Linked DNA regions of Homo sapiens: region 1 is linked to region 2. The links come from fine-mapping of genetic effects on gene expression. A gene starts in region 2. The other region holds a variant in brackets. All regions are shown on one strand. Distances are from middle to middle. Region 1 holds the start of LOC284950 (a long non-coding RNA gene). Region 2 holds the start of PTCD3 (pentatricopeptide repeat domain 3).

Region 1 (17,517 bases), 300 kb before region 2:
CTTATTTATTTGTTTGTTTGTTTGTTTGTTTTTTGAGACAGAATCTCACTCTGTCGCCCAGGCTGGAGTGCACTGGCGAGATCTTGGATCACTGCAAACTCTGCCTCCCAGGTTCAAGCGATTCTTCTGCCTCAGCGTCTGAGTAGCTGGGATTACAGGTGTGTGCCATCACATCTGGCTAATTTTTGTATTTTTAGTAAAGACGGGGTTCCACCATGTTGGCCAGGCTGGTCTCGAACTCCTGACCTCAAGCGATCTGCCCACTTCGGCCTCCCAAATTGCTGGGATTACAGGTGTGAGCCACCGCGCCCAGCCAATGGCTCTATTTTAAATCGCAATACTCCCCTACTTCCCCTAGCACTCTCTCCCCTGCTTTATTTTCTCCATAGTACTCATCACTCTCTGCCACGCTATGTCAGTTTGAAAACACTATCACCTCCCTCTAGACCGTAAAGTTCATGAGAGCGGGGGTTTTTGTTTTGCTGACCACTGCATCCCTAGTGTCTAAACAGTGCCCCCTTGGGGCTTTTTGGAACTAGGAATGCTGTCCTCAGTCTCCAGTAGCTGATGAACAAATATTTGTTGCACAAATGGATGAATGCTTCATTAAATGTACTTGTACATGTATCTTTATGTCCTGGTGGTTTGACTTCTGTAGACTAGATCATGGAAGTGTGGTTATTCTGTCCAGTGTATGTATAGAGTATTTTTAATTTTAATAAACAACTCTAGATTACTTTCCCAAGAGGTTGAAGCAATTCATGCCCATTTCTCTGCCTGTGCTGGACGTTATCACACTTGAGTTCTTGCCAGTCTTCTGGGGAAGCAGGGAAGGCATCTCATTGCTTTAATTTTCATTTTCCTGCCTAATAGAGAAGAACATTGTTCATATTTATTGACCACTTGAATTTCTGTTTCTGTGAATTGTCTTGTTTATTATAGTCTTTGCCTATTTTTGTTTTTACAGGGGAGGTGGGTGGGGGAGGACTGACGTTTTCTAACATGTGTGTAAGACGGAATCTGCATTTTTTTTTTAAAGCATCCCAGGTAATTGTGATACTTATGGCCATTCCCAGCGCTATCGCTTAGTATGAGGATCCTCCTGGTCCGCTACTGCCTGGCAGGCTCTGGGGTCCTCTATGGGTTTTAGAATGAAAGGTTTTAAGGTTTTTTTTCATTGCTGGTACTCTGTACTTTCTACAACGATCTTGTGTTACTTTTTTAAAAAGGATATTAAAAAACAATCATAGGAAAACCCTTGTACTGTAATACCAAGTGGAAAAGCATTTACAGTTAGGATGTACTTTCTGATGAGAATGACATAAAAAGGCTCTCTGTATGCAGAAAACCCTAGCAGTGAATGGCCAGAATGAAAACATAGGATTGTGGGTAATATTCCTTACAATGGAAGTTTTCCTTACGATGGAAGGCAGACAAGTGGGGGAAGAAGAGGTGAGGGTGAACCCCTAGTGGAAAAAGAGTGCCTGCTGGAATGGTAGCACTTGGGCTAAAATACCCTCCTTTTGTGGCTTGGCAGACATCACTAATTAATCACTTCAGCAGTTCCTCCTAAGCTCCAGCTTGGTCTTAGAATCTTTCTCAGCCCCATAGTCCAGAGAGCTACTGTCACAGATCAGAGCTGGCAGGCGACATTAAACCCAGTCACCGTCCTTGCCTGAGCAGGGGACAGCGCAGTCATACCTGGCAGCCAACTCTCTTGCTGGGGCAGCAACAGGCTCCCTGGCAGCCCTCGTGGCTATGTTGGGGCTGCAATCCAGTTGGCTGCTCCTACCTATCTGTGCCCTGGGGGTGGGGGAGGCACCTGGGGTCTTTTCAACCTGCACTGGCTCCCATCTCTTATATAGAGCATAGCTTCCTGGACTCTCTTCTCCTCCCAGCCCTGGGGGCTTGTTGGAAGTGGGAACGTTGTCCTCAGCCTGATGCTTGGCCCTGATGCAAAGTCCACATGTTTTTTCATCATTGACTTTCAGGGTCAACATGTGGACCCTGGACCCTGGACCCTGGAACATCCCCTCCAACACCACACCTTGGCCACTCTCACCATTTGGGCGACTCTGCAGCCTCTGACCTCTGCTTTCATGATTTTTGGCGTAACCCCTCTCCACTCACATGGTCCCAGCTGTGACTTCGTGCCCTGATGCTGTGTTCACTGGCACATCCTGACTGTCTAACCAGGCCCCTGGCCCCGCCCCACCTGCCTGCCCTGCACTTGGCATGACTCAGAGCTGACAGGTTCACCAGCCGGACTCACTGCACAGCGCCAGGAATTCCTCATCAGTCTTCTTCCTCTAGACCAGCTTGGGGTGGGGGCCGTGGGGGGTTGATTAGAAAGAGTAGGAAGAAATATTTTTATAGCTTTTTCTGGTTTTTTTTTTTTGAGAAACAGTAAATGATATAGAAAGATAACATAGAAATATATGAGGAAATCACCAATAATCTAATCACCTGGAGATAACCACAGTGACTGTGTTGGTGAACATCCTTCCAGGCACCTCTCTGCCTCCACACTCACTGACATATACATATGCACATTGTCATAAATGGCATCGTGCTCTATTCAACCTGCATTTTTCACTCAACTATATGTCATGAGCATTTTCAAGAATGTCAATGACGAAAAAACATGTTTTCTTCTCCTAGAATGTAAATTATATTCCACAGGATTCTTTTTTTTTCCTCCTAGCATATTTGTGTTTTTGTTTCCTCTGAGGCAGAAATGTTATTAATTTCCCATTTCTCTCCCATAGTAATAGACCACCAATTTCTAGTTGTGTGGACAGCCACTACAATGAAGACAATGTATCTCAGCTTCCCATGGGGCTCTGTATGGCTGTGGGACTGAGTTCTAGTCAACGGGTGCAAGCAGAAGAGGTATGTGCAACACTGCCTGGATGTGCCCTGTGCTAGGTAGTTTTATATATGGCCATCAATTATTTGACAGTCCTTCTTTCATTTAGGTGGAGGCTTAATTCCCTTCCTTTAAGCATAGCCTGCACTTTGTGACTTGCTTCTAATGCATAGAACGTGGTAGAAGCAATGAACACCTGAGGTTGAACTGAAGAGGCAGTTGGCTTCCTTCTTGCTCTCTGTCTCTTGCATCATCCACTCTGGGGAAAACCAGCTGCCATGTCATGAGGACAATGTAGCAGCCCTATGGAGAGAAGACCCATGTGGCAAAGAACCGAGGCTTCCTGCCAACAGTCACGTAAAAGAGCCATTTTGAAAGCAAGTCCTTAACCCCCAAACCAGCCTTCAGGTGACTGTGGTGCTGGATGACATCTTGACTATAAACTCTGAATTCCTGACCCACAGAAACTGAGATAATAAGTGTTTATTGTTTTAAACAACCAAGTTTTGGGGTAATTGTTTTGCAACAATAGACAACTGATACATGCCCTTAAAAGGATGGGCGGGTCTTCCCTTCCCCTTTACCCTCTCTCTGGATGGAAGGTGGATGTGCAGTGTGCCATCTGGGATCTTGCAGATAAGGGCAACATGCTAGGGATGGAGGAGCAACAACATAGAGGGGGTCTGGGCCCTTGATGGCTTCATAGGACAGGGTCAGCATAACAACTCAGACTTCTAAGTGAGAGGAACATGAATGTCTATATTAATTAAGCCAGAGCATCCCAACCAATGCTGGGCCTTCCTGGAGTGCTGTCAATGGGTTGCAGGTGCATGAAGCTACTGATCCCCTCTGTCTCAGGGCCAGTTGCTTCTGCATGTAAGCAGCCTGCTATGGACTGAATGTTTGTGTCTCTCCAAAATTCATATGTTGAAACCTAATTCCCAATGTGATGATTTTCGGAGGTGACTAGGTCATGAGAGTGGAACTTTTATGAATGGGATTAGTGCCCTTATAAGGGACTAGCAAGACCAGAGATTTTTCCCTTTCCACCATATGAGGACACAGCAAAAAGGCACTATCCATGAACTAAAAGCAGGCCTTCACCAGACACTGCTCTGCCAGTGTCTTGATCTTGGACTTCCCAGTCTCCAGAACTGTGAGAAATAAATTTCTGTTTATAAGCTATCCAATTTACAGTATTTTGTTTTAGCAGTCTGAAAGAAATAAGACACAGCCTTATTCTTTTACCCCCGTGAGCTACACAATTATTACAATTTTCTCTGTGTGCTGTGATGGGAATAATGTTTGGGAAGCTTTGGGTCTCTGTCATGACAGCCAAATTTTATCCCAACAAATACATTCTCCAAAGTGAGATGTGGCTTAGTACTTTTAACATATGCTGCTCTCCTTAATCAGGCTATGGGACACTCGTGCTCTGAGGGGTATGTCAGGTCTTGGCAGGTGAGGTGGCAGGTACTACAAGTGGTCGGGCTTTCTCTAGGTCCCAGAGGCCCCAGGTGTTTGTGATCACTCCCCTTGCCTGTGCAGGAGACTGATTCTGCAAACAACAAGAGCGAACCCTCCTCCCGGCCTTGGGGAACCACTCACAGTTTGCTTCTGACTCCAGCTCTCTTCCCCCTGAGCTGTGTCTGTATCCCAACCTCCCTTCTCTTCTCAGGCTCTGTCCGCTCAGGAACACAGATGGTAACAGTGCAGAGGTGGACACTGCTTAATAACATCATTTCTCCCTGAGGACGGTCATGGGTCACACACCCAAATCAAACCAAGCCTCCTGTGGACAGAATTCTATTAGGAGGTATGGGACTGGGGCTTTCCTGATGTCGCCCACTCAGAAGAGCAGAATCTCTATTTTAATGGCTACATGTTATGCACGGAATATTTGTGTCCCACCTAATTCATATGTTGACATTCTAATCCTGATATGATGGTACTCAGAGGTGGGGCTGTTCAGAGGTGATGAGGTCATGAGGGTGGAGCCCTCATGAACGGGATTAGTGCCCTTGTCATAGGAGCCCTGGGGACCTCTCACACCCTCTTCCACTGTGTGAGCACACCACTCAAGAAGAGGGCAGCTTGTAACCCAGGAGAGGCCTCAGCAGTACCTGACCATGCTGGCACCCTGAGCTCAGCCTTCCAGACTCCAGAACTTTGAGAAATACACTTCTGTTGTTTAGAGGCCACACAGCCTATGGTACCATGTCACAGCAGCTCAAATGGACTGAGATGGTGAGGTTCGCCAGACCCAGGCAATCTGCTGGATGTGTCCTCCCCTTTGCTTAAACTCAGGGTTATATGAAGTAAACAGAAGGATCCGTTTTAGCATGAGTGACATCACACTGTAACATGAGAACCATACACATTTTGTGATATTGCTTTTGCAGACTTAGATCTACAAGACCATAAAGATTCCACAGTGGTGGCTGGGCACAGTAGCTCACGTCTGTAATCCCAGCACTTTGGGAGGTCGAGGTGGGCAGATCGCTTGAGGTCAGGAGCTTGAGACCAGCCTGGGCAACCTGGTGAAACCCCGTCTCTACTGAAAATACAAAAATTAGCCAGGCATGGTGGTGCATGCCTGTAATCCCAGCTACTTGGGGGACTGAGGCAAGAGAATGGCTTGAAACCTGGAAGGGAGAGGTTGCAGTGAGCTGAGATTGTGCCACTGCACTCTAGCCTGGGTGACACACTGAGACTCCATCGCAAAAAAAAAAAAAAAAAAAAAAAAAAAAAAAAAAAAAAAAAAGATTACACAGTGGCTTCTAGTCTCACTGCCCAGTGGCTCCTCATTAATAACTGATAGGAACTCCAAACAGCATGGCCAGGAGACTGCATCAGCTTGGACCTGGTGGATCCCTCTTCTGACAGGCCCTGCTGCTCCCTTCAGCTCTCCACACTGCTCCATGCCCACAACTGCTAGTCTTGGGATTGAGTGTTTATTTCAGGGCTCTTATTTCCAAACTAGTTCAGTATCTGCTGAGGTGATTGTTCAAATTTTGCTTTGAGCATTAAGTTAGTGAATTTTTTTCTTCTTTTTTTTTTGGAGGGAACAATTTTTTTATTGTGGTAAAATATATATAACATAAAATTTAACATTTTAAGCATTTTTGGGTTTATAATTCAGTGGAATTAAGTACTTTCACAGTGTTGTACAACCATCACTACTATCCATCTCCAGAACTTTTCATCACCCCAAATTGAAACTCAGAAGGTATCAAACAATAATTCCCCATTTCCCTTCTGTAACCCATGGCAGCTCTATTCTACCTCTGGTGTCTATGACTTTGCCTATTCTAGATATCTCATCTAAGTGGAATCATACAATCTTTGTCTTTCTGTGACTGGCTCACTTAGCATAATGTCTTCAAGACTCGCCCATGCTGTAGTATGGGTCAGAGTTTCCTTCCTCTTAATGGCTGAGCACGTAAGTTTTTAATCCGTGGATTTCACCAAAGGTTGATGTTTCTAATGCATTCGGCAAAATTCCTGCAGACACTTACTAAATGTGGAGTTGACTTCTCTTTTTCCTGCATCATTCTCTTCATTCTCTATACAGTGACTGTGTGACATCTGGTAGTGCGTGGTTAGGTGTTTCATTCATTCTCTCGAATGAGAGGAGGTCCTCCCAGGTTGGAGGTCTATGCTAGCAGCAGGTGCTCTGTGGAGCGGTGCCAACAGTGACACCGAGAGACGCCCCTCTCTGGTGACAGCTCCGGAGCACTGCCTGTTACTCTACTCTTATATTCTGGAAGCCTCATCAACATCATGCTTTGGTATTTTTCAGTGTGGCTACACATTTCTTACTTCATTTAATCCAAATGCCCTGATGGAGGCTATGTGTCAGTAACCCTTTTAACTCTGAGGAAACTGAGGCCCAGGGAGGTGATGGCTCTTGCCTCCCCAGGAGGTCAGTGGCAAGTGGGAGGCTGAAGCTTAGGGCACCCAAGTCCAGGACTGTTTTCTGCTTACCCCTCAGGGAAGGTGGCAGAGGCTTCAGGTTCCCTCCTTTTTGCACTGGCTTTTCTCCTCCTACCTTGATGGGCATGGATACACTGATAGGGGTTGGAGAAGGTGGGGAGATAGGGGAGAATAAGCACCAACCTTTCAATTCCTCAGCTTGTGCAAACCTTGTTTCTTTTGAACTGTCTTCAGGGCTGAATCTGGCACTCTCAAAAGGCAAGGGTAGGAAGGTGGCAAGAGGGGCTGTAACCACTTCCTGGGGACTGGGGCTAAAACCACGGGGCTGGAATCTTCCCCTCCCCCTGCAGGAGGATATCAGGAACTACAGCCATTTGAGAATAAATGATTCTTGCATATGATTTAAAAATTATGAAATAAAGGAAATGAGGTGAAAAATCTCTTCACTCTTGTCACCAGCAGCCATTTTCTTCCTTACAGGCATCAATGTTTTCTACTTTTGCATATCTTTCCTGAGGACTGTTATGTATGCATATATACACAAGTACATACATACACGTATACGTATGTACGTATGGGTATGTGTGTGTATATATATTCTTGTTTCATTTTCTCCCACAGATAGTAAGTATATTATGCATATTGCCCTGTGCTTTATTCTTCCAGCACTTTCACATAATATATAATAGTAATAGCACTGAACATTTATTAAGTGCTTACTATGTTCTGGGGTTCTGGGTACTGCTCTAAGAACTTGGTATGGGTCAATAGTCTTAATACATTTCATCCTCACAACAACCCCATGAGGTAGCATCATTTTTTCAATCTATACATAGTAAAAAAAAAACCCATGCAAGCTAAAACAACACTGAGATACTATTTTTCATCCGTCATGCTGTTAAAGATCAAAAAGCTCACTAACACACGGTGTGGAAGAGGGTGTGGAGACATTGATACTCCATAGATTTTTGGTAAGCAATTCAGCAAAAGCTATTACCATTATAAAGACAAATAACTTTGATTCAGCAATTCCACTTCTAGGAATTTTTCCTGCAGATACACTTTGCAGATGCTGAATGAGTGGGGCACATATTATTCATGCACCATTGCATAATAGCAAAAGACTGGGAAAAAGTTAAACATGCATCAGTAGGGACTGGCTACATATGGTATA[T/C]TAACATCCATTTATTGAAATATTAGGCTGTGGGTTTTAAAAAAATGAGTAAATTATTGATGCACAGAGGTGGTGTTAGTCTGTTCTTACACTGCTAATAAAGACATACCAGAGACTGGGTAATTTGTAAAGAAAAAGAGATTTAATGGACTCACAGTTTCACATGGCTGAGGAGGCCTCACAGTCATGGCGGAAGGCAAAGCAGGGCAAAGCCACTTCCTACATGGTGGCAGGCAAGACAGTGTGTGCAGAGGAACTGCCCTTTTATAAAACCATCAGTTCTCATGAGACTTATTCACTATCACAAGAGCAGCATGGGAAAAACTCGCCCCCATGATTCAATTACTTCCCACTAGGTCCCTCCCACAACACGTGGGGATTATGGGAGCTACAATTCAAGATGAGATTTGGGTGGGCACATAGCCAAACCATATCAGACTGGCTAAATACGACATATGATATGATATATTAACATCCATTTATTGAAATATTAGGCTGTGATTTTTTTTTAATGAGTAAGTTATTCATGCACAGCGGTGGGATGCTCTCCAAGATGGAGAGGCAGTGCAACATCATGGTTAAGAATCCAACTTGAGCCAGGCTTCCTGGGTTTTAAGTCTGGCTTTGCTGCTTATCAACTGTGCAAAATTGGACTGTTACTCTACCTCTCTGCATCTCTGGTTTCCTCATCTGAAAAGTGGGGCTTGTAATAATAACACATTGTAATACCTCCAGCTAACCCTCAGACAAGTAGGAAATAAACGGTCATGGTCATATGCCACTGGAATTTTTTAAAAATATTTTTTACACAGCATGAATGCAGTGATAACTAACTGATACAAGTGCACAGTAGTTGCTCAATAAGTATTGCTTAATAAGGAACTGAGCAAGTCCTTTCTTTATAGTGGGAAACTTCACAGGTTACCTGAAGAGCAACTCCATGTAGAGCCCAAAGAGGAAGCTCAAGGTTAATATTCAACATACAACCAAAGCACTGGGGTTTTATTTATTCAGCAGGCTGGTTTTTTTTTTTTTTTTTTTGAGTACTGGCTGTGCTAGAAGCTGACACACATACAAATAGAGTAAGGATTGACCCCTGTCCTCAGAGCACACACTCTCTGGAAGGACAAGATTTATAAACAATTAATTATAAGTATCGTGGCACTTGCTGTAACAAAGGTATGCAGAAAGTGTGCAAAGGAGGTAACAAGCATTTCAGCCTGTGGTGGATGCAGGGTGAAGGAGGTGAAGTCATGGGAGTTGGGGTGCCCAGTGAGCGGTAAAGGGATAGAAAGCTGCAAAGGTCAGCCAAATCCAGCATGGGAAGGGCCTTGAAAGCTTGGGAAGGAATTTGAGTGATACAATTTTTTGGCAGAGGGGTGCCATGATTTTGGAAAGATCACTTTGGTGGCAATGTGGAAGGTGCAAAAGGCGGCTATTGCAGGGCCCAGGATGTGGGGTTGCTTACATCAGACCTCCTGCTACAAGGACAGAATTGATCGGGGACAATTTCTAGGGACAGGATTGATCTGGGGGGTATGTGGCCCCAGATGAGGAAAGAGAAGTCCAGGAGGTGGTAAAATAAGTCCTTTCTTCTAACTCCCCTGCTAGGTAGGCACTGTACCAGTTAGGAAGGCATTTGGCTGCAGGTAACAGGAAACCTGGTTCTAGAAGTTTAATCACACAGGGGTGCCTTTTTCTCATAATAAGAAATCAGTAAATGGTGGTTGCTGACTTTGCTGTGGTAACTCGACAACTCTGAGATTCTTATGGCCTCTCCTCATGGTCTTAATGTGGTTGGTACAACTCTAAGTATCGTGTCTGTGTTTAAAAGAAAACCAAGAGGCAGAAAGGTGGAAAGAGAGGGCCATACCAGCTGCACCCTTTTGTCAGGAAACCAGTTTTACTTGACATTTGCACCCCACCCCCTGCCAGCTTCCACCTATATCTTATGGCCCTATCCTGGGTGCAAGGGGGCTGGGGAACTGAGGAACAGGCTTGTCATGCTCAGTGGAGCCTCTTTGTGGGACCAGGCCCATTTCCATTCCAAATGAATTGGGTTTGTTACAAGGAAGAAGGGGAAATAGATATTGATAGGCAGAAGCATGTCCCCAAACATGGCCAGAGATGGTGTATCTTCTGCCATAGGAACTCCTGGTGCATGGCACGAATTCAGACATCCTGCCTTCTGGACCTGACACTATGAAGCCCCACTGTGTTTCCCCACTCCCATTCCAGGCCTCTGCCTCAGTGGGTCCCAGTTCATCCCTGTCCATCCCAGAGGGGCCCTCTGAAGTAGATCCAGGCCCTGGGTGGGGGCAGTGGCTAGTGCTAAGCAGAGTGGGACGAGAGCACCATCACTGAGTTCCCTACTGACCGTTTCTGAGCTGAGCTGGCACAGAGGTCCTGGGAACAGAGGCTGTCTACAGCCTGGTATTCTGGTAGCACAGAAGGCTCCTGGAAAGCCATCTAACCCATCTTGCTGGTCTCTTCTTGTGGCACATGATAGTAAGCCATGAGGACTCTTGAGGACAGATGGGAAGGTCATATGAAAACTCCTAGCAAAGTGCATTTACCGTGGAACGAGGAGGACCTGGATTCTTCCAAAATCCAACTTGGTGATAAGCTGAGTCATGCGTGGTAACAAATGCCCCGACAAGTATAATTGCTTAAACACGAAGATGTATTTCTTGTTCACTCTGAATGTCCATCGTCAGTTCACAGGGGCTCTGCTCCATGTCTCTCCACTCTGGGATCCAGGCTGATGGAGCAGCCACCATTTCTAACTTGCTGCTTGCTATGAGAGAGGGAAAGAAGAGATCTGGAGGGTTTACTGTGGCATTTCCTTACTATTTATTTATTTATTTATTTTTTGAGACAGTCTCTTATTCACTCAATGGCCCAGGTTGGAGTGCAGTGACGTGATCTCAGCTCGCTGCAACATCTGTCTCTCATGTTCAAGAGATTCTCCTGCCTCAGCTTACAGAGTAGCTGGGATTATAGGCATGCACCACCATGCCCAGCTAATTTTTGTATTTTTAGTAGAAACGGGGTTTCATCATGTTGGCAGGCTGGTCTCAAACTCCTGGCCTCAAGTGATCCGCCCACCTCAGCCTCCCAAATTGTTGGGATCACAGGGGTGAGCCACTGTGTCCAGCCTCACTATGACATTTAAATGCCCTGATTTGGGAGAAACTCACATAATTTCTGCTCACAACAAATTGGCCAGGGCCAGTTTCATGGCCCTGCCCTACCACAGAGGGGCCCTGAGTGTGATCTTACCACGGGCCTGGAAGACAGAGAGTAGGGAATGCATTCATGACAACCACAGTGACCTTGGGAAAGTTGTCTTAGTTCTCTGGGCCTCCTTTTTTTCACCTGAAAGTAGTGTTCTTAAAGCAAAGACAGAGTGGTTAAAATGGCTCTTAGAATCCCTCCAGCCACTGGAGATAGCCATTGGCTAAAAATGAACCTCAAATTAACCTCATACCCCATACAAAAATTAACTCAAAATGGATCACAAACGTAAATGGACTTTACAAAACTATAAAACTTGAAAAAGCATAAGGGCAAATCTTTGGAATCTGGGGCTGGACAAAGGGTTTTTATTCCTGATACCAAAAGCATGATCCACAAAAGAAAATTGGTTCAACATGGATCATGAATTGATAACTTGGGCCTCATTAAAAAATCCTATATGAAAAACTTCTGCTCTGCAACAGATCCTGTTAACAGGGTCAAAGACAAATTACACAAAGCTACACATATAATAAAATTGCAAAGAGCAACACACACCCAGACACATACACACATACATGAGTGCACATATATCTGGTGAAATCCGGATACATTCTAAGGACTATACCAAGTTTCCTGGTTTTGATATGGTCCTATGGTAATTTATCAAGACATTGGCAGAGTCTGGGTGAAGGGTGCATGGAACCTTCCTGTACATTTCCTTGCACCTTTCTATGGATCTGTAATTACTACAAAATGAGACCAAAAGAATCCTGGCTGGGCACGGTGGCTCACACCTGTAATCCCAGCACTTTGGGAGGCAGAGGCGGATGGATCACTTGAGCTCAGGAGTTCGAGACCAGCCTGGACAACATAGTGAGTCTTCTTTTCTGCAAAAAATACAAAAATTAGCTGAGCATAGTGGTGTGCGCCTGTCCCAGCTCATCGGGAGGCTGAAGTGGGAGGATTGCTTGAGCCTGGGAACTTGAGGCTACAGTGAGCCATAATTGTGCCACTGCACTCTAACCTAGACAACAGACTGAGACCATGTCTCAAAAAAAAAAAAAAATCCCTTCAGCCACCCATAAAGAAATCTGCTTTGGGGATCATAAGCATTCGTATATTTAAACACCTAAGTCACTCTTAGTCCTGCAACATGTTCCCGATGGGCTGAGGGGCCAGCAGATCCCATCCCCCAGAGTGTCATTGCATGGAATACATGAAGAACCACCTGAATCACTGCCACTGACATTTCTCTGGCTCTGTCACTTTTATCGTTTACACTGGTCCACAGCTTTTTATCAGAAACCCTTGGGGCCAGGAAGTTTCAAAGATGTGTATTTTTTTTTAAAGGGGAGTTAGAAAAGTTGTCTAGGGTTGTGGTGTTTATTAGGTAACTCTCCCTCCCCCAACAGGATGTGGGGCAGACCCTGTCATCAAACACATTTAATGTAATTAATATTCACAAATGTAAGGTATAAATACTCCCAAGGAGTGAGATAAATACAGACTAAAATTATCTTGTGTCACTTCAAGTCACCAAATGAGTTCTGTTCAGGTCAGATTTAGCCCTAGACATTACACACGTGCTCACACGCATGCACGCACGGCTGGTTTTCCGAGCTTTTGGATCTGGGAATTGCAGAGCAGAGGCTGTGCAGCATGGCCGAATGTGCCTACCGTGACTCCTCGGGTGCCAGGCCCAGGCCTTGTCTGACCCATGGGTTGTGTGGACAAGAGGCCACTGCGCCTCAGGGTGCCAGGGATCCCAGGCTCCTGAGAGTGAGGGGCTCAGAGCTTCCCCAGCTGTCACCTTCACACCTGGCCACTTGCCCCTAGATCTGCTGGACCCTGAAACACACTCCTCCCGTTACTGGCTGGTTGTGGGTGTCGTGGTGTCACAGCCCCTGGAGAAAATCCCCCAACCCCCACCAACCTTTGTCCCCTCCAGAGAGCATGGGCACCTTATCTGCAGCCCAGGTGGCTCCTAATCTTCTTAGACTCCAAGGTGCTGGGTCTGGCAGGAGCCAGAGACGGAGCCCAGGCCCGCCCTGGTTTTACAGATGAGGGAACTGAGACCCAGAGAGAGTGAGTGAATTACCTAGACTCACACAGCAGGTCAGTCTGGGCACTGTACTGGATGATTCCTGGCAGGGAGAGGGGTGCTGGAGGCATGTTTAAAAATCAGGGACTGGAAGAGCCTCTCAGCCTCAGAGAAGACATCTGAAGCAGCCTCTGAGCCACACGGAGCACCCCCCGCCCCCACCCCAATGAAGTGGGAGAGGTTCCCAGGCGCAGGGGGAGGAAAGGGGTCATGCAACCACGTCCTTGCCTCCCGCCACGAGTGTACCCCGAGTCACCAGGTTTGCTCAGCCGCAGCAGGGCCAGCCCCGGCGGCTGGAAGGCGGCGGCTGGGCCTGGACGTGGGTGTGGGCGCCCCCGGCCTCCCCCCGCCCCCGCAGGCGCCCCCCACCCCCCTAGCAGGCGCCCCGGTCCCTGTGTGGGCTGCTTTGACTCAGCGCCGGGAGCCGAGCTTAGGCAAACCACGCCGCACTGGACGCCATTCAAGCTTTTACAGGCCCTCAAATTGGGGCTGGAGCCGGAGAGGAAATACTAAAATCCTGTGTACACAACTTCTGTCTGGGCGCGCCGGGGCTCTGGGAAAATCAGGCGCGGCGAGGGACACATTTGGACTGTTTAAGGGCTCCTTTTCCCTGCTCTGCTTTTAGCAGGCATCACGATGTGTCGCCTAAAACCAAGATTCCTGGGTGTGGGCGCAGGAGGGTCTGCGGAGTGTGTGAGCTGAGGCTCGGCGGGAGGAACTAAGCTTTTCTCCTGCCCCCACGTGCCAGGCACACATGCGCCCAAAGTTGGGTTCAGAAATCCCTGTGGTCCATAAACCACACACTCTGCATGGCCCAGGCCCCTTCCCCTGCAGAAAGATGCAGCTGTCGGATGCTGGATCCTCAGAGCCTGGGCTTGGGAGTTAGGCAGGCCTGGGTGGGAACCCGGCTCCCCACTTGGCAGCACTATGACTGTACTGTGGGCAAGGGCCTCTATTTCCTCATCTGTAAAATGGGCGTGATCATGGTAAGTTACCTTGGAGGTTAAAGACATGATGTAGGTGGGGAACTAGCTCAGAGCCTGGCACATAGTAGGTGCTCCCTAAGTGGTAGCTGTTAGTATTTATATGGATTAATAGTGATAGCATCATGTTGAGCCTGGCACATGCTAAGTGCTGCCTACAAATCAATTCATTTAATCCTCACAGCAGCCCCATGGGATAATACTGTAACCCCATTTTAAGGGCAGAAACTAGGTCAATTCATTGACCTACCCAAGGTCACAAAGCTGGTGACTGGCCGGCCAGTCAACTGAACAAATGAACAGTTGAACCCAGGCCATCATTTTCATAGTGCAGATGATTTGCCACACTCTGAACTGTAACAGAGGAGGAGCTGGTGGTGGCCAGAGCTGCTGATGAGCTGTGTGTCCATGGCATCCTCAGCCTGGCACCGAGCCCCCCACACCTGGGCCTCATCCCACTGTCCCAGTTCCAGCTCTGCCAAGTGCCCTCAAGCACTTCCCACCTTGGCCCACCAAGAGCCCGAGCTGCCCCCTCCTACCTCTCGGCCTTGGCTCAGCCTCTCCCCCACCCCCAAGCTCGCTGGCTGCCTGCCTGTGCATCAGGCCACTCACTGGCCACCCCTCCGGTGGGGCTGGCTTCTCCTCTGAGCTGCAACACTTCCACCCCCAACCAGTGCCTTCAGCCTCCCTTCCTTCGACTTGGGCCACGCTGGTCTGTGATATGTTTGTTTCCCTCATTCTGGTCACTCGTCAAAACCCTACAGATCTGAGGCCAGACGTAGTGGCTCATGCCTGTAATCCCAGCACTTTGGGAGGCTGAGGAGGGTGGATCACCTGAGGTCAGGAGTTCGAGACCATCATGGCCAACATGGTGAAACCCCGTCTCTACTAAAAATACAAAAATTAGCCAGGCATGGTGGCATGCGCCGGTAGTCCCAGCTACTCAGGAGGCTGAAGCATGAGAATTGCTTGAACTGGGAGGCGGAGGTTGCAGTGAGCCGAGGTCATGCCATTGCACTCCAGCCTGGGCAACAGAGCAAGCCTCCATCTCAAAAAACAAAAACAAAAAATCCCCCAAACCCTACAGGTCTGGTCTAGTCTCTTGTGCAGAGCAGGGTCTCCCATTTGTGGAAACGAATTTTCATTGGTGGTAAATATTGGGTGATTGGTGACATTGTCCTCACTGGTGACTTGTATGAAGGAAAAAGAGAAGCCCCAGACAGTTTGTATAAGGAGGCAGGAGACAATGTGGGCATCACCCCGTGTTCCTGACGTCTGCTGCCAAGCACGTGGGGGTGTAACTCCTCTGCCCACCCTTCCCCCTACAACCCCCTTAATTGTTCTGTCATCAGGGCCTCCCAGGAGCCCATGCTGTCTCAGGTAATGGCAGAAACCTCAGGTAACGGCAGGTGTGTGAGCTCCTGGCTGGGCTTCCCTATACCAGCAGCCTGCAAAGGGTTTCCATTCTGGGATCAGAGGGGCTCCAGGCCTGCCCATGAGCCACATGATGCCAACCTCAGTGTGGGCCATGCCAGGCCTGAGACCACATAGTGGATCTCCCAGACCTCTGCTGGGCAGCTAGAGCTGCCATCCCACTTCCCCCAAACAGCCCAAACCCCCAGTGCCCACACCCAAGAGGCACGACAGTGTCATGGAAATAACATGGCCCTTGGAATCCAGAGATCTGGGTGTGGGTCCTGATACTGCAGTTCCATGAGGTCTTGGACAAATCACTTAACATTCCTGTGAGCCTCAGTTCCCCCATGGTGGTAATCATGTATATTTTACTTTGGGATTGAGAGACAGGAGAGGTATGAGAGCACCTGGAACACTGTGGGAGCTGAAGTGTTGGTTTAAGTGGGAGTCACAGTTGTGGTGGGGAGCTAGACTTGAGGGGTGACAGGATGACCCAGTGAGCTGGCCCAGCAGTAAGAAGGGAGGAATTGATGATGGAAAGGCTGGCGTCCCCTGGTCTGGCCTCTGCAGGACTCGTAGTTGAGTCTCCCCACCCCTTAGAGTGGGGGTATTCCTGGCCCCAACCACTTCACACCTTTGACGCTTGGGGGAGGGATGCATATACAGGTGGAGGCTGCTGGGAGTCTGGGGTGCCATGTGGGATACCCCAGACATCTGGCAGAGCTGCAGTGGTGCCCTATGGGTGCAGACTGGTTTGGGACCACACGTGAGCCACCCCAGGGGCTTCCAGAAGGGCGCAGTGCCAAGGCAGCTGAGGATCACGAGTAAGGAGCCTAAGGGGGCCAGAGAACTTGGGGGCGTGTTACTTGTGTCTAAAAATTGGCAGATCGAGGGTCAGGGCATCTGGACTGCTCCAGTGAATAAGGGAGAATGCACACTGGCCACCATCAGCTGCTGGGTACAGCCGGGAGAGCTGGTGGACTTGGAACAGGAACAGTCTGCATGGCGTGACAGCGCCCTCTGCTGTCCAGGCTGGGCTGGCATCGATGGTACAGGAGGAGGGTGATCCTCACACCTGGCATGAGCAGAACCTCCACTTCAAGCAGCCAGGGCTCAGGAGCAGGAGGGACCCCGGTAGATGGGAAACTCATTCCCATTTTACAAATGAGAAGACAGGCTAGGAGGAGTGTAGAAAGTTGCTCAGGGTCCCGTAGCTATTAAATGGCAGAGCCAGACTCATCCTGCAATGCCCTTCCTTCTACCCCAGACTGAATCATTTTATGCAAAATATAACAGGACTCAGGGATGCTGGAAACAGTACCCTTCTTTATTCTATTAAAATCAAATTAGATCTGACTCCGCCTCTGGCTGGGCTGCAGAAAACTTCATTCTGACTTGCTTTTGGAGATGGGAGTGGGTGCTGCTCCTCCCTAGGCCTGTGCAAGAGCCAGGGAGTCTAAGGTGATGCCAGAAAATGGGTGTGAGGGAGTAGTGTTTAAATCTTCAGTGCGTCAGCACCACTGTGAGAGCTTCGTGTCCAAGCCTCAGGGGGTCTGTGCTGCCTCCTTGCCCAGTTTGGCAGCCTGGGCCTGAGGCCATGCCACTCGCTCCCCTGAGGCCCCCTACAGCTTGGCTATGCCATCTGAGGTCTTGCTCCCCCGCCCCCACCTCAGCAGGTACTGCTGCTCCCAGCCATGGAGTTCTCTCAAAACCTTTCTCAAACCTTTTCCTCCCCTCCCCAACCCGCAGCCTAATCCCCTTAAATTGCTCCAGATCCTAGAAAATAAAAGCAGGAAAG
Region 2 (14,702 bases):
CTCTAGAAGATTCTATGTTGCATGGCCAGTGTCACTCTAAGGGCCAAGGCGACAGGGAGGCAGATCTGCTGCTGTGGCTCTTGTCTATATGGTCACCTTGCTGCCAGTAAGCTAATTTCATGAGAAACTTGATCTAACTCAAAAGTTGTGCGTGTGGTCTCTTCCCACAAATCTAGAGTCCACCTGCAACCCTGAACTGGGTAACATTGAACAAATTACTTACCTTTTGTTCTTTAATCTTAATTTTTGAAACTGTAATAAAATATATATAAATTCATCATAACTGTTTCAATTAGTACAGTTCAGTGGTATTAAGTACATTTGCATTGTGCTACCATCACCACTCTCCATCTGCAGAACCCTTTTTCATCTTGTAAAATTGAAACCCTGTACCCATTATACAGTAATTCTTCATCTCCTCTGCTACCATCATTTTACTTTCTGTTTTGATTAATCTGACTACTCTAGGTACCTTATATTAAGTGGAATCACACCGTACTTGTCCTTTTGTGACTGGCTTATTTCACTTAGCACCGTGCCCTCAAGGTTCATCCATGTTATAGGATGTGTTGAACTTTTTTCCTTTTTTAGGGCTGAACAATATCCCATTGCATGTATATACCACATTTTATGTATCAACCCATCCATTGATAGACACTTGGGTAGTTTCCACTTTTTCACTATTGTGAATAATGCTGCTATGAACATAGGTATACAAATATCTCTTTGAGACCCTACTTTCAATTCCTTGGATACACATCCAGAAGTAGAATTGCTGGATCACATGGTAATTTTGTCTTTAGTTTTTTGAGAATCCACCCTACTGTTTTCCATAGTGGTTGCACCATTTTACATTCACACTAATGGTGTACAAAAAGCTTCCACTTTCTCCACACCCTTGCCAACACTTACTACTTTCTGTTTTTCTGATAGTAGCACCCTACTGGATTTGAGGAGCTTTTTATTTGCATTTCCCTAAAATTGGTGATGTTCAACATCTTTTCACATACTCACTGGCCATCTGTATGTCTTCTTTGGAAAAATGTCTGTTTAAGTCCTTTGTCCATTTTAAAATTGAATTTTGTGTTGTTGTTGAGTTGTAGGAGTTCTTTTTATGTTCTAGATATCAATCTCTCATCAGATATATAATTTACAAATATTTTCCCCCATTCCATGGGTTGCCCTTTCACTCTGCTGACTGTATCCTTTGATAACTACCTAATTTTTTTCTCACCTGAAGTCTGGGCATCACAGCAGCTCTATTGGGATGATTAGAAGATAACATACAGAAAATACAGTGTCAAACAAAGTTCCTCTCTCTTTGTAGAGGAGAAAGTCCCTCCCACCATTACAGGAGTGGGATGAAGAGTAGGGGCAACTAGCAAGGATTCCACCAGTCAGTAGAGTTTGAGATCAATAGACTTAGGTTTGAAGATGACCTTTGCCACTTCCTAGAGAGACATTTTGTTCTCTGGGCCTGAATTTTTTACTGGAGGTGCCACCACAAATGGTGTTGTTAAGAACTGAGAATGGGTGTCGTTAAGGACTGAAAGTGCCAAGCACTGAGCAGCTAGCTCCTCTATCCATCTATTCATACACTCAACAAATACCCAGAGTGCTCACTGTGTGCCAGACAGTGTTAAGTGCTAAGGAAACAGACAAGAACTGCTATGCTTACAGGCCTTACATTCTATTGGAGGAACGGGAACAGACACAAAATGTATAGTCTGTTAGACGGCAGAAAGGGCTATGACGAAAAATAATGCAGGGAAAGGGAAGAGCAGAGTAGGCAAGTGGTCCTAGAAGCCCACTAAGGAGGAACTTGGGCAAAGGCTGAAGGAGTTGAGGGAGCAGGCCATACAGTCACCTGGGCAGAGGGTTTTACAGGAGGAAGAAGCAGGGAGTGCAAAGGTCCTGAGGTGGATGTGTGCCCGTGGTGCTCTGGATGCAGCAAGGAGGTCAGGGTAGCCAGAATAGAGGTGAGATCAGAGAGGTAACAGGAGACTGAAATGACCCCTCCAGGCCATTTGTAAAGACTTGGTTTTTACTCTGAGTGAGATGGGAAGCTATTAGAACCTGGCACAATAAAAGGTGGCAGTATTATTGAAATGTCTCAACTCTAAACTTGTTTGAAAACTCCACAATTATCTTTTTAAAAATTCAGGCAACTTAAAACACTTCTGCTTTTGGATGAAATCGTATCCACTTATGGCAGTGATGATATAATTGGAATTTCTGGGCTAGCACACTGTTACCAATGATACCAGAGCTGTGGCTCAGGAGTTTATTCATCCATTTATTCAGACTTGAGGATAAAAGACAAGAGTGACACATATAAGAAGCTCAAGGATAGTGGAGGAAGACAAATATACATAAGCACAAAAAGTCACTAAAGCACCATGACAGACAACTGTATCATGTGCAAAATGACCTCACAAAACAAGGGAGGTGAACTGAGCTTTCAGGTGTGTATGTTGGGTAGGGGACAGAGGGAAGTACCTCCTTTTGGCTGAAAGGACACTGCATGCAGAGGGAATAGCTTAAAGAAAGGCCCAGATGTTGAAATATGATGGCGGTTTCTGGAATATGCAGGTGGTTTAATAGGGCTGAAGAAGGGATGATGTTATAGCTAAAATCAGCATTGGTCTGATCATGGGAGACTTTGCAGGCTATGCTAAGAAAATATACTTTATCTGAGGGAAATGGAGAACATTTGGAGGGTTTTAAGGGTGACAGTAGCATGACTACATTTGCACTTTGCAAGAATAATTTTGACAGCAGTGTGGAGCATGCACTTGAGAGGTGTAAGGGGAGGGTGGAAGGAAAAGACAATTCAAATATGAGATAAGGGCCAGAGGCAACACAGTAGCAATTGGGAGAAAAAGGAGACTAAGAACAAATAGACATGTAGGTGACACAAAGTAAGAGCCCAATAAATAAGTTATATGTCAGGAGAGATCTAGAATAATTTTCCAGTTTCTAGTGACTATTTTGCACTACGTACACCATTTTGGAGGGGTAAGTAACCCCTCCCTTTGAAGAGGGATGCCGTGTTGAGTTTTTTTTTTTTTTTTTTTGAGACAGAGTATTGCTCTGTCGCCAGGCTGGAGTGCAGTGGCACAATCTCGGCTCACTGCAACCTCCGCCTCCTGGGTTCAAGCGATTCTCCTGCCTCAGCCTCCCGAGTAACTGGGACTACAGGTGCCCGCCACCACGCCCAGCTAATTTTTGTATTTTTAGTAGAGACGGGGTTTCACCATGTTGGCCAGGGATGGTCTCGATCTCCCGACCTCGTGATCCGCCGGCCTCGGCCTCCCAAAGTGCTGGGATTACAGGCGTGAGCCACCGTGCCCGGCCATGTTGAGTTTCTGATATGCATTTAGGCCATGTTGAGTTTTTGATATGCATTTAAGATCTCTGTGTGAAATTCAATTAAAGATGTACAGACAGCTGAACAAATGGGTCTGAAAATCAGGGAAATAAATTTGCGTTGGGGATTTAAATTTGAGACTATAAATCATGAAAGTGGTGAGATTGTCTAGGGACAATATTTACCATGAAGAAAACATTACTAGAATAGAATCTTGAAGAACATCAACATTTAAGGAGTAAAATGAGGTACAGACCTTGCTCACCAATGTGTCATTAACGCCTAGCTTGGTGCCTGGAAAAAACTGGATGCTCAATAAATGTTTGTGAGGTTATAGATCGATAGAGGAAGAGAGGGAGGTAGAAGTATTTGTCATAAAAATAGGAGAACTTGAAGACAAATAAGGTTCTGGAAGAAAGGAAAGTTTCAAGAGAGTGCATTGGAGAATGTCAAATGCTACCTTGATCAAAATGAAGACTAAAGAGAGTTCCCTTGATTTAACAACCAGACCGAGAATATAGCAGGGTCCTAGCAAAGAGAAGTTAACGCCTGAACTGACACTTGAAGGACAATCATTTTACAAACAAGAGGAAACTTACTACGTGCCTAATTAACCATGTCAGGTACACTATGGTTAATTCCACAAATGCTTGTTAGTTAACGAGGAGACTGGCAGATGATAACGCTGCAGACCAGGACCCTCCCCACCCTTATATTCCCCTACCTCAGCGCAAACTCTTTCCCCCAGCACCACCGGCCTCTTATCCAGGCAGTCCACGCCGGCCCAGGAACGTTCCCAGAACTACGGCTCCCAGCAGGACAAGCGCCAGACAAGCCTGGACTCAAGAGGATAGACTGGGCAAAAGCGCTTCTGGGAATCGTAGTTTAGGGCGCCGACCTCAAGATCCAGGCTGGGCACGCTACCCGACCAACTCCTTACTTGAGCTCTTCAGCCGAATACATCCCGAAGGAAATGCCCTGCAGCCGCCGCCAGGGCATGTTCTTGGAGATCAACATCCTCCAGGTCCGTTTTGAATTCCGACACCCCAAGAGACGTTCCACTCACCACCTGACTATTCTTAATTCAACCTCAAGCCCGGAGTCACCACGCGATTCAACGTGCGCTTGCGCGCGGAAGCGGTCGCAGGAACGACATTTACGTGGATGAGATCACTTCTACATGGGGGGGGAACAAATAGTTGTACGACTCTCTGCTCGCTCTTTTGTTTTGAAAACAATCAAAGATATATAAGACATCAAAATAATCATTTAGGAAAATTCCTCCGAGGCAAATCGGGTGTATAGAGCTTTTAGCTTCCGTGACGAAGTCTTTCAAACCATGAGCTTGCAACCTCCCATTTTATGATTGCTTTCGTCTTCTTCCGCTTCAGCCAATAGCGGAGCTGTTCCCTGCTCCCCGCCCACTGCGCCCCACCTTCCTGAAGGTCGAGGCACGCTTTCCCAACATGCTCTGCAGAGAAATCAAAGATGGCGGTTGTATCTGCTGTTCGCTGGCTGGGCCTCCGCAGCAGGCTTGGCCAGCCGCTGACGGGTCGGCGGGCGGGTTTGTGTGAACAGGCACGCAGCTGCAGGTAAGAGACGCTTAGGGTATCCGCGAAGAAGACCGCGGAGTCACCTTAGTCCTATGTTTCCCAGCTGGCTGTGGAAGTAGGCACGATGAAATGGTTTGCTCATGCGCGCCCTTAACGGTCGCGTGCCCTTAAGACCAGGTACGCGGAGGTGGCCCTTTGAAATAGGATTCGCAACGCATTTATTCATTAGAGAAATACTTATTGGTTGCTTGCAATATTCTGTAGTTAACACCATCCGCAAAGCTAGGACCCTGCTCTCATGAAGCTTGCGTTCCAGTGAGTGTGGCTATTAGCAACACTACCCCAAATTAAAAATTATCCGCCATTACTCATTTTAACCCAATCAGGAGGAGCGAGGAGAACGTACAAGATCTTCCCAAATAAAAGGCAGTCTCTGGTCGCCACCGTGGGGACTTTGGCTAAAGAAGTTATCAGGTTTTCGTAAAAGCAGAAAAGTCTAAAAGATCTGACTATGCCCTTTTGATCTGTGATAGTTATAGCTTGGAACATGTATGACCTATCTGTGTAATTTTTTTTTCACTCAGTACAAACAGTGGCATTGTGGGAATATGAGAGGCAGTAATTTGTAGTGAAAACTTGCTAAAAGCCTAATTTTAGGTTTAGTGTTTGCCATTCACTTAATTGGATGATAATAGACAGATTTCCTCATCTGCAGACTAGAGTTGGTAATAACCATCCGAAAAGTTTGTGAGGTATAAGTGGGGTATGTAATTTACAATATGTTTTTATATGTACTCTCCCTTAGTTCCCCTCAAGAAAGAGAAACCACTCCATCTGATACTGCAGAAACCTTTGTGCTGCCATTCAATGCCAGTCCTCCGTTTCCTGGTAGCCATCGTTAGCATTTTTCTACTCATTTTCTTTGCCTGAAGCAGAATCTCTTCCTCAGCATCCGTTCTCAAAATAACTGTGATCTCTGTTTTAAGGTCATGAGAAACAAATAGTGTGACTTGAAAGAGTTGATCTCAGAAACTTGAAAGAGTTGATCTCTTTCTGAAATGTCCTTAACGTAGAGGGGTATTCTTGTTTTAAATGATACCTGAAACCAGATACTACTGGAGGAAGTATCTGTCTGTGCAATCACATCTTGACAATTTTCTGAATGTTACTGATGCCATTTAGTAAGGGGAAACACAAGATAATACTAACCGTCACATTATCTGTGGTGTGTTGACTGTGTTTTTAGTGTGATCAGAACACTTAAACAGAACACTTAAAAACTCAGTCATGGGCCAATGATTCTATATTTTGGTTTAAAAAGGATTTCATATTGAACCTCTGAAAATAGAAAATATCAGCAATTCCAAGTCTAAATCAGGCCTTATGTATTTGGTACATTCTTGATTGTTGAAAGAAGTGGAATGAGAAGCCATGGGTCATCTTCCCTATGTTGTAATTGCTTTAAGTGAGGTAGTCCTTTCTGATCAGGGCAGTATCTGTATAGAAGCAAGAGCTCACTGAATTGTTCTTTTAAACATCATAGTGTTTTGGGTTCCTGAAGTTGAAAGTTCTTCATTTCAAACCAGATTGTTCAAGTGCTATTAAAAACTTTCCTCCCTCTCTGCCATTTATGTAATGAGATTGCTTGCTTCCAAAACTTTTGTCTAGCCGGGCATGGTGGCATATGCCTGTAGTCCTAGTTACTCAGGAGGCTGAAGCAGGAGGGTCACTTGAGCCCAGGAGTTCAAGGGTTCAGTGAGCTATAATTGCACTACTTCACTAAAGGCTAGGCAATGGAGCAAGACCCTGTCTCTAAAAAAAAAAAAAAAAAAGTTTTGACAGTCTTGTCCATATCTTGTATCCATTCCTTAATGATATTGAACATGTGTACAGACTGTCTTCTCAGCGTTCATTGACATGAGTTATCCAGTTTAATCCGTGATAATTGGAGAATTTGGGCTCAAAGTACACATAGGTGGAGGTGAGCTGGGTACTTCATTAATGACTATTAGATTTAAGGCTTTTGTTTTTTTGCAGATTTTATTCTGGTAGTGCAACCCTCTCAAAGGTTGAAGGAACTGATGTAACAGGTATATTTTAAAATATATTGAATTCTATTTTTATATCAACACGTTGGATTCCATTGTAGTACTAGGAAACTGATTCATGTTTTCTTTTTTACATTAGGGATTGAAGAAGTAGTAATTCCAAAAAAGAAAACTTGGTAAGTATTCTATCAGTGTTCATTCAGCAAATGGTTGAGTGCTTACTATGAGAGAAGTGTAAGGGTTAGGTAAGGAGACAGTGACAGGAAGAGCAATAGGAGAGCATTCTTGAAGAGAGTAGCTGAGCGGGGAGAAGCTAGGAGTTTAAAGGACAAAAAATGGAAAGGTGGAGAATAGTGAGTGAATGAGCAATGAGATTTACTTAAAAGAACAATTGAAAGAGATTTTGAATTAGTGTGGGTTACTATTTACGTGGTTAATAATACATGGTTATACATGAACATCATCATTAGAATAATTTTTTTCAAGGAAGTTCTCTCATATGATTCAAGAGCAGACAGTTACTGTCTTTATTATCTCTAATGAGGTAAAAATAAAGTAAATGGTGTGGACAGCAAAATTTAGCTTTTTTATTCACTGGATATATCCTTGAACAAATTGCCTCATCTCATTTATTCAACATTTGTTGAATATGCAGGAATTAAAACTTCACAAAAGTGCTTGTTACAGTGTAGTCCTATTGAACGCATTTAGTGGCCCCTCAAAAAGCTAGGTCTTAAAATTATGTGACCTAAAGACTCGGGTTCGCCAGGCGCGGTGGCTTACGCCTGTAATCCCAGCACTTTGGGAGGCCGAGGCGGGCGGATGATGAGGTCAGGAGATTGAGACCATCCTGGCTAACACGGTGAAACCCCGTCTCTACTAAAAATACAAAAAAATTAGCCGGATGTGGTGGGGGGTCGCCTGTAGTCCCAGCTACTCGGGAGGCTGAGGCAGGAGAATGGCGTGAACCCGGGAGACGGAGCTTGCAGTGAGCCGAGGTCGCGCCACTGCACTCCAGCCTGGGCGACAGAGCAAGACTCCATCTCAAAAAAAAAAAAAGACTTGGGTTCATTTAAAAAGACTTTTTTAAGAACTTTATTAATCTGAACTGTGTGATTATTTTAGGGAGGCCAGGGAGCCCAGTGATGTCAATGCATAGGTAACTGGGATCATAAAAGAAGTGCAAATTAAAACTTACCGTATTGGCAGAGAGAGGATTTGAAGAAATACGTTTGTTTATGGGACAGTAAATTGGAACAGCTCTTTGGAGGGAAATTTGGCAGAATCAGAATTGGAAATGTGCGTACCTTACTGGTTAGCCACTTTGGAGGAACATTTGCATATATACATGGACAAGACTGTTCTTTATTACTTGGGAATAGTAACAGGTTGAAACAGCCTGAATGCCCATTGAAAAGTGAATGGATAATTTTAAAAGGTTATCATACAATAACTTTTTACATTGAAAGGAATTAATTAGCTCTATATTTAATAACATGGATAGTGCAGCCAAACTTATGTAGACACATGCAGAATGACAGTGTGTATACGTTTTTTAGGGAGATGTTTATGTGTGAAAATACCTTTAAAAGTTCTGGAAATACAAATACCAAATTCATCGTGGAGAGGGGTCACAAGATGACACCAGACACTTTAGGTTAACGTGTAATGTTCTAGTTTATTTTTTTAAGATAATGTATGATACCTTTTAAAGTAACCCTTTAAAGAAAGAGAATTAGTGAGTAATCTGAATGTCATCATTTTTTCACTGCCATTTGTTCAATATGTTAGGAAAGTTTGCTAACTTGATAAGACTTAAATAGGGCAATAAAAGATCTGCTGAAGGAATGCTGACAGATGAGAGAATGTGTCGTTATCACACTTGCTGAAATTACATAAATGTGACTTCTAAACGTGGATAGAAAATTTAGTGGATATTATGTACATCAGGGAATTAGTTTTGATGAAATATAAAATTTCCTGTACTTTTGTTTTTCTCAGATGACTTATAGTCTTAAGAATGTTATGTTAAACTTTATTTAGAAAAATACTCTTGGTATAATTCCCTTTTGGAAAGGAAACACATTAAATCTAACATAGGAGCACAAATATATTTGAGATCAAATTATCTTGTCTGTCATTTATTCCAGTGAAGCCTTTTCTAATAGTTCAGTAAAGGTCTCTACTCAGAGGTGCAGTGGACAGCTGGCCTGCAATTCTTACCATAACGTTATATATGGTTGAGAGGTTCTAAACCAGGAGGTTGCATCAGAATTATCTGGGAATTCAGTAAGAGTGTGTGTGACAGTCCTCCATGGATCTTGGGAGGCTTTGATGCAATAGGTCCAGAGTGAAGCCTGTGGTTTATTCTCCTATAACTGAATCAAGAGCTACCAATTAGGATAGTAAAGGCAACAGTAGTCCCGAAAGCTGCAGTAAGAATCCATAGGAAAGTGGGTAGAGGAAGTAGGCCAGATAGTTTTATGAGGGCGGGATGGAAATCACTAGCCCTGGGTTATGGCATTATGCACCAGGCCAGAGAGGACAGGCAAAGAGAGGAACATGTACCAACTAGGGGAAAGAACCAGCAGTTTTCTTAATTTCTAATTTATTCTAGTGACCTTGTGACATAACCAGCTTCAGATGAGATCTGCACTATGTTATTGGCCAGTACACTGAGAGTAGAATCACTTGTTCGGTTTGTGGCTATGAAGAGCCCTGATGAGGATTAACTTGTGGTTCTTATTTTTAGGGATAAAGTAGCCGTTCTTCAGGCACTTGCATCCACAGTAAACAGGGTAAGTAGGATTTTGTGTTTTTTTTTAACCTAAAACTTGGCTAATAACACACTTTTTAACTCGGCTAATAACACATTTAATACTCATACCTCGTCATTACTCAGAATTAAACTGTTGTGCGTCTAGAAAGTTTCTTTAAAATTGTCTAGGCCGGGCGCGGTGGCTCACGCCTGTAATCCCAGCACTTTGGGAGGCCGAGGCAGGTGGATCACAAGGTCAGGAGATCGAGACCATCCTGGCTAACACAGTGAAACCCCGTCTCTACTGAAAATATAAAAAATTAGCCAGGCGTGGTGGCAGGCACCTGTAATCCCAGCTACTTGGGAGGCTGAGGCAGGAGAATGGCGTGAACCCAGGAGGCAGAGCTTGCAGTGAGGAGAGATCGCGCCACTGCACTCCAGCCTGGGCGAAAGAGCGAGACTCTGTCTCAAAAAAAAAAAAATTGTCTAATCCAGCTGAGCCAGGTGGCTCATGAATGTGATCCCAACACTTTTGGAGGCCAAAGTAGGAAGACCACTTGACATCAGGAGTTCAAAACCAGCTTGGGCAATGTAGCAAGACCCCCATCTGTTTTTTGTTTGTTTGTTTGTTTTGTTTTGTTTGAGACAGAGTTTTGCTCTTGTTGCCTTAGGCTGCAGTGCAATGGCGCGATCTCGGCTCACCGCAACCTCCACCTCCTGGGTTCAAGCAATTCTTCTGCCTCAGCCTCCTGAGTAGCTGGGATTACAGGCATGTGCCACCACGCCCAACTAATTTTGTATTTTAAGTAGAGACGGGGTTTCTCCATGTTGGTCAGGCTGGTCTCGAACTCCTGACCTCAGGTGATCCACTTGCCTTGGCCTCCCAAAGTGCTGGGATTACAGGTGTGAGCCACTGCGCCAAACTTTTTTTTTTTTTTTTTTTTAATTTATTTTTTGAGACGGAGTCTTGCTGTGTCGCCCAGGCTGAAGTGCAGTGGCACAGTCCCGGCTCACTGCAAGCTCTGCCTCCCAGGTTCATGCCATTCTCCTGTCTCAGCCTCCCGAGTAGCTGGGACTACAGGCGCCCGCCGCCACGCCTGGCTATTTTTTTGTATTTTTAGTAGAGACGGGGTTTCGCTGTGCTCACCAGGATGGTCTCCATCTCCTGACCTCCTGATCCACCCGCCTTGGCCTCCCAAAGTGCTGGGATTACAGATGTGAGCCACAGTGCCCGGCCTTTTTTTTTTTTTTTTAAGAATAAAATTATTGGCCAGGAGCAGTGGCTCACATCTGTAATCCCATCACTAATCCCATCACTTTGGGAGACCGAGGGAGGCTGATTGCTTGAGGTCAGGAGTTCGATACCAGCATGGTGAACATGGTGAAACCCTGTCTCTACCAAAACAACAAAAACAAAAATTACGAGGCATGGTGGCACCTGTAGTCCTACCTATTCAGGAGGCTGAGGCAAGAGAATCTCTTGAACCTGGGAGGCAGAAGTTGCAGTGAGCCAAGGTCCTGCCACTGCATTCCAGCCTGGGTGAGTTAGTGAGACTCTGTCTCAAAAAAAAAAAAAAAAAAAAAAATTTAAAATAAAATTATCAAATCCCTTTATTTGGCAAAGGAGGAAGCTAAGGTTTTGAAAGTGGCCAGTGGCTGGTTAGGATGTTAAAACCTTAATTAAAGGCTTAATTTCACGCCTTTTATCTCGAAATGCAGTGTTTTTCTACCATACCAGTGATCTTTAATCCCTGGAAGGGCTTGTTGAAATGTATGTTCTTAGGGGACGATTTGGCTGTAGTATACCAACTTGGAGAAATAATGTACCTGTCATGCTGACAATCATGTAATGATTAATAATCTGGGTCCTGGAGCCTACTGGTTTGTTTTAATAGCCAAGCAACTAGCTTTATGATCTTAGGGAAGTTACTTTACCTCTTGATACTTCTGTTTCCTGACTTATAAATTGGGGGTTAATTATAGCACCAAACCTCAAGGTTGCAGTGGAATTATTAACAAATGAATTAAGTATACGTAAGATTTAGGATAGAGTCTGGGACAAAGGAAATTCTTGGTACATTGTATTTTGTTACTGCTACTACTGTATTGTTGATTTCATTGACATGAAATTTTCTCTGTTGGCAACTCAAGAGTAGAGTTTGTAGTCTGGTAGATACACTGAAACTTTGGTAAATGCATCAGAAATGGAACTTTCTGCTTGGTTGTATTTTTTATTAACCAAAAACTTTTAATTTCGTCTGTGGGGAAAAGTCTAAAATAATTAAGTCTTTTTTTCTGCCACAGTATCTGTATGGATATTGATCCTCCTTAAGTCGATTATTACAAGTACGCAGAATTGTTCTTCTATTGTGGATATTAAACTACATCTAAAAATGGAACTACTAGGCTGGACATAGTGGCTCATGCCTGTAATCCCAGCAGTTTGGGAGGTCAAGGCGGGTGGATCCTGTGAGCTCGGGACTTTGAGATCAGTCTGGGCAACATGGTGAAACCCTGTCTCTACAAAAAAACACAAAAATTAGCTGAGCGTGGTAGTATGCGCCTGTAGTCCCAGCTACTTGGGAGGCTGAGGTGAGGCTCACTTGATCCTGGGAGGTGGAGGTGGAGGTTGCGGTGAGCCAGGATCGCACCACTGTACTCCACAGAGTGAGACCCTGTCCCCCCCGCCACACACAAAAAAATTAAATATAAAATAAAGATGGAGCTACTAAAGATAGTGTTGGGTCTAATGTGCACTGGTGTACTCTACCAGTTTCTGAAAAAGGACTTTACTACATCTCCCTACTTGCAAAGCATTGAGATTTTCAGTAGCTCACTTATCCATAAATAGGCACCTGAAATGTAAACATAGAAATGGACCTCCGAGATATTCTCAACATTTCAATGAGAATGGCCCAGGGCCACTTTCAAATCAAAGAAGTTATAGAATTGTGTGTAGAATTGTGACTTATCTGGCCCTTAAAATCCAAGAGTTATTCGTTTATCCATTCATTCAGCAACAATATTTTGTGCCCTTATGATGCTTATCAAGCACTGTGCTGGATATAGAATTAGACACAGATATTGTGTAGTTCTAGAGGGGAAGACTGAGGTAGCACTGAGAAGGGGTTGTATCGCCAAGACTGAGAAAGGAATTCTTTTTTTTCTTTCTTTTTTTTTTTTTAAAGAGACGGAGTCTCCCTCTGTCACCCAGGCTGGAGTGCAGTGGCGCAATCTCAGCTCACTGCAAGCTCTGCCTCCTGGGCTCACGCCATTCTCCTGCCTCAGCCTCCTGAGTAGCTGGGACTACAGGCGCCCCCACCCCCACGCCCGGCTAATTTTTGTATTTTTAGTAGAGACGGAGTTTCACTGTGTTAGCCAGGATGGGGGTAAAGGAATTCTAAGCAGACATTTTAGAAAAGAGAGCTATGTGGAGAATGGGAAAGCTTTCCACTTGAGAGTGTGATAAAGAGCTTAGCATATCCAAAACCAAACCCCATTCCCTCCAAACATTCCTCACATATTTCTTTGCCATCTCATTAATGGCAACTCCATTCTTATAGCTGCTCAGGCCAAAATCCTGGGAATTGTTAGCAAAGCCTTTGTTTATCCCTTCAAAAGATACGTGTGTGTGAGGTCTCCGTGACCACTCCCAGGCTAAGAGTTATGACAGCAAGAAGATACAAAGCAAAGTCAGCAAAGAGAAAAGGCTCATTGGATAAAGACCAAAAGAAATCAGTCACAAGCTTCCAAAAGACCTCTCCAGAAGATTCAACACAGGACATGCTTAATTCCTCCATCAGTGACTTGTGACAACACATGCAAAGTGTCTACCAAAGCTCATTAGAGACCCAGTGCCCAGAGTTTTTAGGGGAGGCTGGCCATGTAGACCACCCACTGGCTGGCATATATTATACCAAGTTTCCATACTCCCAGAAGGGAAGCAGGTGTTTGGCACAAAACACGTTGTACAAACAGGTTAGGCACAGTGAACCATTCTTAGCAGTTCTAGGAATGGTGAGAACCCTTCCAATATCCAGGTTCCCAGATGGCAGCCAAGGGCCAGCCTTGGACGCAGACCTTCCTAAGGATAATGGTTTCAGGTCTGTTAACTCTTTTCTGCAAAATATCAAAATTTTAGATGCCTGATATCACTACCAGTCACCTTGGTTATTGTCGTCTTACAAGTCTGGATTAATTGCAGCAGTCTCTGTCGTCTCCCACTGCACCTCCCTGCACACTGCTCTCAGTTCAGCAGCTGTAGTGACCCTGGATCATATCACTCTTAAGAATTCAACATTGGCTTTCCATTAGTATAATTCAAATAAAAACTGAAGTTCACAACAGGGCTGCTAAGGTGAGGCTCAAGGGAAAGGGGTTTTTGAAAGGGGTAGCAGAAAGCTAGGTCCAAAATAAAACACTGCCTCCAGGTTCCAGGTATGAGCAGCTTTCCGTTGAGAGCTGCAGGGAAGCTTCTGTGCCCCCTCCCTGAGGAGTCCAGGTCAGTAAAACAGCATTAAGGATATAGGATAAGTTTTTGCTTTGGAATAAAGGCCCAAGTAAGGCACTCAGACACAGAAGAGAATAAAGAAAGCAATTCTGGGGCATTTCTCAGTGGGGCCCCTGGTGGTATTGGAGAGTTGATTATGCTCAGGTTTAGGGAGCAATTTTAATGGGTAACAGGACGTGGGAGAAGGTTCTGTTGTTCATTCCTCAGAGGGCACGGTGATATCTTCCATTTGGAGGAGGGACTCTTGGTGAAGTTGAGCGTGGGTGGATAGTGACCTTGCTTTGGAGGAAATCCTATTCTGGGATTCTGCTGTTAGGACTAGTTAATTCAGATGATTCTTACCTAGAGTTTAAAACAGTCCCCAGTGGTAGCAAACTTAAATATTAAAATCAGCCATGGGGAGGGAGGCTTAAGCCATTGCTTGCCTTGCATAATTAAAGGCAAGTCTTGTAGAGCTGAGAGT

The links.
Region 1: its variant is fine-mapped to the expression of PTCD3 in whole blood (INTERVAL, PIP 0.99).

What each region holds. Positions count from the first base shown.
Region 1 is chr2:85,797,650-85,815,166 of GRCh38, forward strand. It overlaps LOC284950 (a long non-coding RNA gene), which reads left to right and starts at 17,481. Exons shown (of 3, transcript NR_038888.1): 1 at 17,481-17,517. RefSeq lists a silencer at 6,890-7,087. The variant T/C (reference allele first, on the strand shown) is at 7,980.
Region 2 is chr2:86,101,390-86,116,091 of GRCh38, forward strand. PTCD3 (pentatricopeptide repeat domain 3) reads left to right here and starts at 4,846. Exons shown (of 24, transcript NM_017952.6): 1 at 4,846-4,962; 2 at 6,961-7,013; 3 at 7,111-7,147; 4 at 9,724-9,769. The coding sequence starts at 4,859. POLR1A (RNA polymerase I subunit A) reads right to left here and starts at 4,497. Exons shown (of 34, transcript NM_015425.6): 1 at 4,311-4,497. The coding sequence starts at 4,387. RefSeq lists enhancers at 4,017-4,106, 4,307-4,516, 4,897-5,156.